2 linked regions of the Homo sapiens genome follow. The gene in region 2 interacts genetically with the main gene of each other region. Each region holds a gene or a part of one and is shown on either strand. Other genes may lie near its edges.

Region 1 (3,500 bases), on a different chromosome or scaffold from region 2:
TCACTAGAGCTACACAAGGGCTAGCATAACGTGGGCATCCAATATATGCCAGCTGAGTGAATGAAGACACAACCGACAGAGAAGAAGAATGAAATGTCTACAGAAAGACTATACATTATAACAATTGTTTTAAGTGACAATCCTAATTTTTTACTAAATCAAGAGCCAATACCATGTTGAACCAAAGAAACACTCCAAATAACTACAGATGGAAAAAAAAAAGCTCATAAGCCTTCTTTTTCGCAATAAAAGTAATGATTTCTAATTCAGAAATAATTTTATCCATATACTAGTTTTTACTGGTTTTCATTATTTACTTAATTCTCTATACATCTCTGAGGTGATGAGATACCCAGGTTAGTTTTTGTTGGCAGATCACTTAACTGGTGAAATCAAGGTTAAGTGACCAATTGTTATGTGTAGCATTTACTTTTGCTCTCACTGGCAACGTAACTGTGCACAATAACTCAGGAGAGCCTTTGTAAAGATAAAAGCCACCAATCATTATGGGTATGCTAGCAGGTAAGATTTACCTTACCTATTATTAAGAGCTTTTTAATTAATTACCTGTTATTACTTGTTAATTATCTGTTAATTAATAAGAGCACTTACTACATGCAATTACTGTTTTAAGTGTTTTAAAGGTACTGATTCATTTAATTCTCACACAAATCCAATGAGTCAATTATCTCCATTTTATAAGAAACTGATGCAAAGAAGATTAAGTAATCTACATGAAAATTCTATTCATCTCACTAGAATTTTTATCTTTAGCATTGTCCTATGTCACTAAAAGTCTATTATAAACATTATCAGTGGCTTCATAATGTTGTACTGTACTGATGTATTATAATTTACTCAATGATTCCCCCATCACTGAGAAACTGTGGTTACTTCCAATTTTCTACCTTTAAAAATAGATCTGCTATAGACATCTCTGCATATAAGTCTTTGCCCACATGTTTATTTTCCAAGGACAGATTCCTAAAAGAATTACTACGTCAATAAACATGTTGGGCGAATAAAGTAGTCAAATTGCCATTTTGCCTAATTAGCTGTTTTTTCTTGCTTTTATGCCTACAAAGTTTCTCCCCAACCCAAGGACAAACAAATATTCTCCTAGATATTTCTGGATTTAATTTGACATTTAACTTATATTATATATATATGAACTTTGTTTTGATGTGTGAAATGAGCGATACTTTTTCTCCAAATAGCTAACCAATTCCAAAACCATCAGTTAAATAACTTATCCTTTTCCCACTGATTTTTGCTTCTTCTTACATATATTTTCCCTTGTTGGTTTATTCTTTCGTCAGGAGGCAGTGAAACTTTGGGGAGAAAAGATAACAGGCTTAACACTGTAACTGCTGAATTTAAGATGTTTATGAATCATTCAGATGGAAATATATAGTAGGACACAATAGATATAGGTTTCTTGCCTAAAAGAGAGAGGGGAGCTTTATTTGAGGGTAAAAAGATTACTCAGGGGAACACAGGTAACAGAAGAATTGAGAGCCAAAGAATAGGGCATGGGAAACCAACATTTCAGGGCTGAGTGGCAGAACACAGCCATGTGAGAAGGCACAATCAGCCAGGTAGAGGGCGGGGAAGAAGCAGGAGAGAAGGGAGCAATATAAGCCCTGCGCAGAAAGAGTTTCAAGTATCATCATGAATCACACTTACACTTTGGTTTACTTGACCAAAACAATAACATAATGTTCTACTAAAATCCTCGGAAGCACAAACATATTCTCAAATTATTGGTTTCTTATGAATGGAGTTATAAGCAGAGTCTGGCTATCAGAGCATGTTTATACATCTCCATAGGGCTTAGGGGAAGGACAACTGTCTAAAGGTTTTAGTGTATTTTAAATCTATTTAGAGGTAAATCAAAAGATTTTGAAATGTTTTGAATGGCAATGCTTAATTCTGGGAGTTTGGGTATAATGTTGCTCACGTACAAAATGAGGTCCCTTAAAGGCAGAAACATTTCTGAAGAAGAGGTAGATCTCCTCTGTCTACAGAATAACCCATCTAGGCTACTTAAACCATAAGCGTTGTAGGCTCTGAAGAGGAAAACAAATCCTAGCTCATACAAAACTGTATTTCCAGACTTTGTCTGCCATTTAATTAATGTAAGCCAAGCTCTCAACACTCAAATGTCCCAAACACCTTCACTGTGTTATTGATATGCTTATCAGTGAACAAGCACCTTCTTTTTTGGTGCATGACAAGTTTTACAAAGCAATTAAAATGTTGGCATTTTAATTATTTTGAATTTTTCTAATTTGGTCTAATTTTTGACCAAATTTAGGTACAGCTGGAGAGTCTATATACAGAAAACATGCTTATCTGCAAATGGACCTGTTTCTAAAGTGAACTGTAATAAGTATGGCCTGATAGCCATCACATTCACAGCTGGAAAAACCTAGGATGAACTCAGAGCTTATGCCTAATCTCTTGATAATTAACTACAACATGGGAAAAAAATGTTTTGAATCTGGAAGGGAAAATGTAGAGGTGTTATGACAACTTGCCTTCCATTTTACAATAAATATTATTGTATCTCTACTATATCTGAATCTCTGCCCAAAAAAGATGTCATATATTTATAACCAAAATATTCACTCTTCTCAAATAAACAAAAAATCTTTCCATAGATAGATCTCTAAGTCAGAGAGAGAGAAAGAGGGCACACCTCCACATCTATCTTCTCCCAGAGGGACCCAGCAGCAAATCAAAGGTGATCCTTGATATGGTCTGCAGGGAAGGGAGTCCTCCATGACAGAAAATGCGATAAGAGAAAAGTTCCAAGACAAAGATGCTGCCCCAATACAACCAAAGCTGAGTGAGGCAGGCATACTGGAGGCACTGCCCAGAATCTTCCACTTTGGTCAGTGACTGAGAAAAGTATACCTCTGCAAGCCTGCCAGTGCTCAGTTCAACCAGCTTCCAGATTTTTTTTTTTTTTTTTTTTTTTGAGATGGAGTCTCGCTCTGTCGCCCAGGCTGGAGTGCAGTGGCGCGATCTCAGCTCACTGCAAGCTCTGCCTCCCAGGTTCACGCCATTCTCCTGCCTCAGCCTCCCCAGTAACTGGGACTACAGGAGCCCACCACCATGCCCGGCTAATTTTTTGCAGTTTACTATTAGTAGAGATGGGGTTTCACCGTGTTAGCCAGGATGGTCTCGATCTCCTGACCTTGTGATTCGCCCACCTTGGCCTTCCAAAGTGCTGGGATTACAGGCGTGAGCCACCGCGCCCGGCCTCAACCAGCTTCCACTCTTATTTAAATGTTTGAGAGCATGGAATTTACCCATGACAATGTCTGCCTCTCCCCACCTTTGTCACCACCATGGATACACATTTCCTCCAAAGATGGCAGGAAACCCCAAACACAGTTGATATTATAGGTCCTGGACAGACCATATGCTATTTATTAGCTAAAACATTTACTTGTTCCCTTCATACTTTTCTTAAAAATTCAACCAATTATATA
Region 2 (3,500 bases):
CTCTTGACCTCGTGATCCTTCCGCCTCGGCCTCCCAAAGTGCTGGGTTTACAGGCGTGAGCCACTGTGCCCGGCCGCCCAGCCTTATTTTTATTTTTTGAGAAGGAGTCTTACTCTGTCACCCAGGGTGGAGTACAGTGGCACAATCTTGGCTCACTGCAACCTCTGCCTTTCGGGTTCAAGCAATTGTCCTGCCTCAGCCTCCCAAGTAGCTGGGATTACAGGCGCCCACCACCAATCCTGGCAAAATTTTTTTTTTTTTTTTTTTTTTTTGAGACAGAGTCTAGCTCTTGTTGCCCAGGCTGGAGTGCAATGGCGCGATCTTGGCTCACCGCAACCTCTGCCTCCCAGGTTCAAGCGATTCTCCTGCCTTAGCCTCCCAAGTAGCTGGGAGTACAGGCAAATGCCATTACACCCGGCTAATTTTGTATTTTTAGTAGAGACTGGGTTTCTCCACGTTAGTCATGCTGGTCTCAAACTCCCGACCTCAGGTAATTCGCCTGCCTTGGCCTCCCAAAGTGCTGGGATTATAGGCGTGAGCCACCACGCCCAGCCAGAAGTGCAGATTTCTTATGTGCATACATTGCATCGTGGTGAAATCTGGGCTTTTAGTATACCCATTACCCTAGTAGTGAACACTGTACCCAATACGTAATTTTTCAACCCTCACCCCACTCCCACCTTCCCACCTTTTATATTCTCCAGTGTCTGTTAGTTCACTCTATATGTGCACACGTTGTGTAGCTCCCACTTATCAGTGAGAATATGTGGTATTTGACTTTTTTTTTATTTACTGAGACGGAGTATTGCTCTGTCGCCCAGGCTGGAGTGCAATGGCTGATCTCAGCTCACTGCAACCTCCTTGACTTTCTATTCCTCAGTTATTTCACTGAGGATAATGGCTTACATGTATGAGCACTTGAAGTACAATTTCTACTGAATGTGTATCTCATATTTTTTTTTGAGACAAGGTCTTACTCTGTCACCCAGGGTGGAGTGCAGTGGCGTGATCTCTGCTTACTGTGACCTCCACCTCCTGGGCTCAAGTGATTCTTCTGCCTGTCTCCCGAGTAGCTGGGACCACAAGCATGCACCACCACACCCAGCTAATTTTTGTAGTTTTAGTAGAGACGGGGTTTTACTGTGTTGGCCAGGCTGGTCTCGAACTCCTGACCTCAGGTGATCCGCTCACCTCGGCCTCCAATGAGCCACCGTGCCTGACCTGAATGCGTATCTCTCTTTTTTTTTTTTTTTTTTTGAGACGGAGTTTCACTCTTGTCCCCCAGGCTGGAGTGCAGTGGTGCGATCTCGGCTCACTGCAACCTCCATCTCCTTGGGCTCAAGCAATTCTTCTGCCTCAGCCTCCCGAGTAGCTGGGATTACAGGCGTGCACCACCATGCCCCGCTAATTTTTGTATTTTTAGTAGAGACAGGGTTTCACCATGTTGGCCAGGCTGGTCTCTAACTCCTGACCTCAAGTGATCCATCTGCCTCGGCCTCCCAAAGTGCTGGGATTACAGGCTTGAGCCACCACGCCCAGCCTGAATGTGTATCTCTTTTACACCATCATAAAGTCGAAAAATTAAGGTGGGGTGTGGTGGCTCACGCCTTAATCCCAGCACTTTGCAAGGCCGAGGTGGGCGGATCACGAGGTCAGGCGATCGAGACCCTCCTGGACAACATGGTGAAACCCCGTCTCTACTAAAAATACAAAAATTAGCTGGGCATGGTGGCGAGTGCCTGTAATCCCAGCTACTTGGGAGGCTGAGGCAGGAGAATCGCTTGAACCAGGGAGTCAGAGGTTGCAGTAAGCCAAGATTGTGCCACTGCACTCCAGTCTGGTGACAGAGCGAGACTCCATCTCAAAAAGTAAAATAAATAAAATTAAAAAATAAAGTCAAAAAATTGTAAGGTGAACCATTGTTAAGTTGGGACTGTCCTTGCTATGGGAATACATGGGAAAGGCACCCAGTCCAGTGTGAACAATCAAGGAAGGCTTTGTGGAGGAAGTGATGTTTAAACCAAGACCTGAATGTTGAGTATGAGTTAGCCGGCACATTGAGGAGAGTGTGTGTGCAAAGCAGAGAAAAGCATATGTACACGGTGGGAGGCAAAAATCACATAATGTTGTTCAGGAACTGAAAATAATTTGGTATGGCTAGAGAAAAGGAGTTTGCTCTCAGGACCCCTTTTTCTTTTCTTTTTTCTCCTTTTTCTTTTTTTGTATTTTTTGTGGAAACGGGGTCTCACTATGTTGCCCAGTCTGGTCTTGAACTCCTGGCCTCAAGTAATCCTTCTTCCTTGTCCTCCTAAAGGCTGGGATTATGAGTATGAGCCACTGTGCTCAGTCCCTGGACCCCTTTACAGTCTTCAAAATTTTGAGACTTTTCTTAAATATATTTGATTGTATTTGATCTCATGCCTCCCTAAAATGTATAAAACCAAGCTGCACCCGACCACCTTGGGTACATGTTTTCAGGACCTCCTGAAGGGCCATGGTTACTCATATTTGACTCAGAATAAATTTCTTCAAATATTAAAACATATATATTATTGGCCAGGCATGGTGGCTCCTGCCTGTAATCCCAGCACTTTGGGAGGCTGAGGTGGGTGGATCATCTGAGGTCAGGAATTCAAGACCAGCTTGGTCAACATGGTGAAATTCTGTCTCTACTAAAAATACAAAAAATTAGCCGGGTGTGGTGGTGCGCACCTGTAATCCCAGCTACTCAGGAGGCTGAGGCAGGAGAATCGCTTGAACCCGGGAAGTGGAGCCTGCAGTGAGCCAACATCATGCCACTGAACTCCACCCTGGGTGACAGAGCAAGACTCTGTCTCAATAAAAAATAAAATGAAATAAAATTAACTGGTCTCTTTGTTGCACCTTGAATAGATCTTTTATCTATGCATGATTTTTGTCACATCATGAATTGGTAATTTGGACAATATCCATGACTAAGTTATATAGATATTACAGTTGTTGATGCATTTAATAATATCATATTCTCACATGTTATGGAGCTTCCAGGACAATCCACTGTACAATTGTGAGAGAAAAAGAGCAAAAAGGTAAACAGTATCTTAGTAGTATTTTAAAAATAATTTTGACTTCCTAGACCCCCTGAAAGGTCTTGGGGACCCTGGGGAGTTCCTGAACCGTACCTTTAGAACTGCTAGGCTGGCACTTTAAGGAGGAGAGTGGTTTAGGGAGAGAGAATGATAAGATTGTAACAGACTTTTGAGTGATGCTAAGGAATTTGGACTTTATTTTAGGGTGACAAATAATCATTTAAAGGGTTTTAAGTGGAGGCGTCACATGACAAGACTTCCGTAAAAATATACATATTTTAATTAACATAGCATAACATACAAAGATCTTGCGCTGGGCGCAGTGGCTCAATCCTGTAATCCCAGCACTTTGGGAGGCCGAGGCGAGTGTATCACCTGAGGTCAGAAGTTCAAGACCAGCCTGACCAACATGGTGAAACCCCGTCTCTACTA

The links. Genes that interact genetically often act in the same process or in processes that back each other up.
Region 1: changes in MED24 (region 2) and GATB together harm fitness more than expected from each alone (negative genetic interaction), as found in Homo sapiens cells (one large-scale study listed by BioGRID).

What each region holds. Positions count from the first base shown.
Region 1 is NC_000004.12:151,754,508-151,758,007, forward strand, and holds part of GATB (glutamyl-tRNA(Gln) amidotransferase subunit B, mitochondrial isoform 1 precursor), read right to left. Parts: intron 1-3,500. UniProt on the Homo sapiens protein: Allows the formation of correctly charged Gln-tRNA(Gln) through the transamidation of misacylated Glu-tRNA(Gln) in the mitochondria. The reaction takes place in the presence of glutamine and ATP through an activated gamma-phospho-Glu-tRNA(Gln).
Region 2 is NC_000017.11:40,047,909-40,051,408, reverse strand, and holds part of MED24 (mediator of RNA polymerase II transcription subunit 24), read left to right. Parts: intron 1-3,500. UniProt on the Homo sapiens protein: Component of the Mediator complex, a coactivator involved in the regulated transcription of nearly all RNA polymerase II-dependent genes.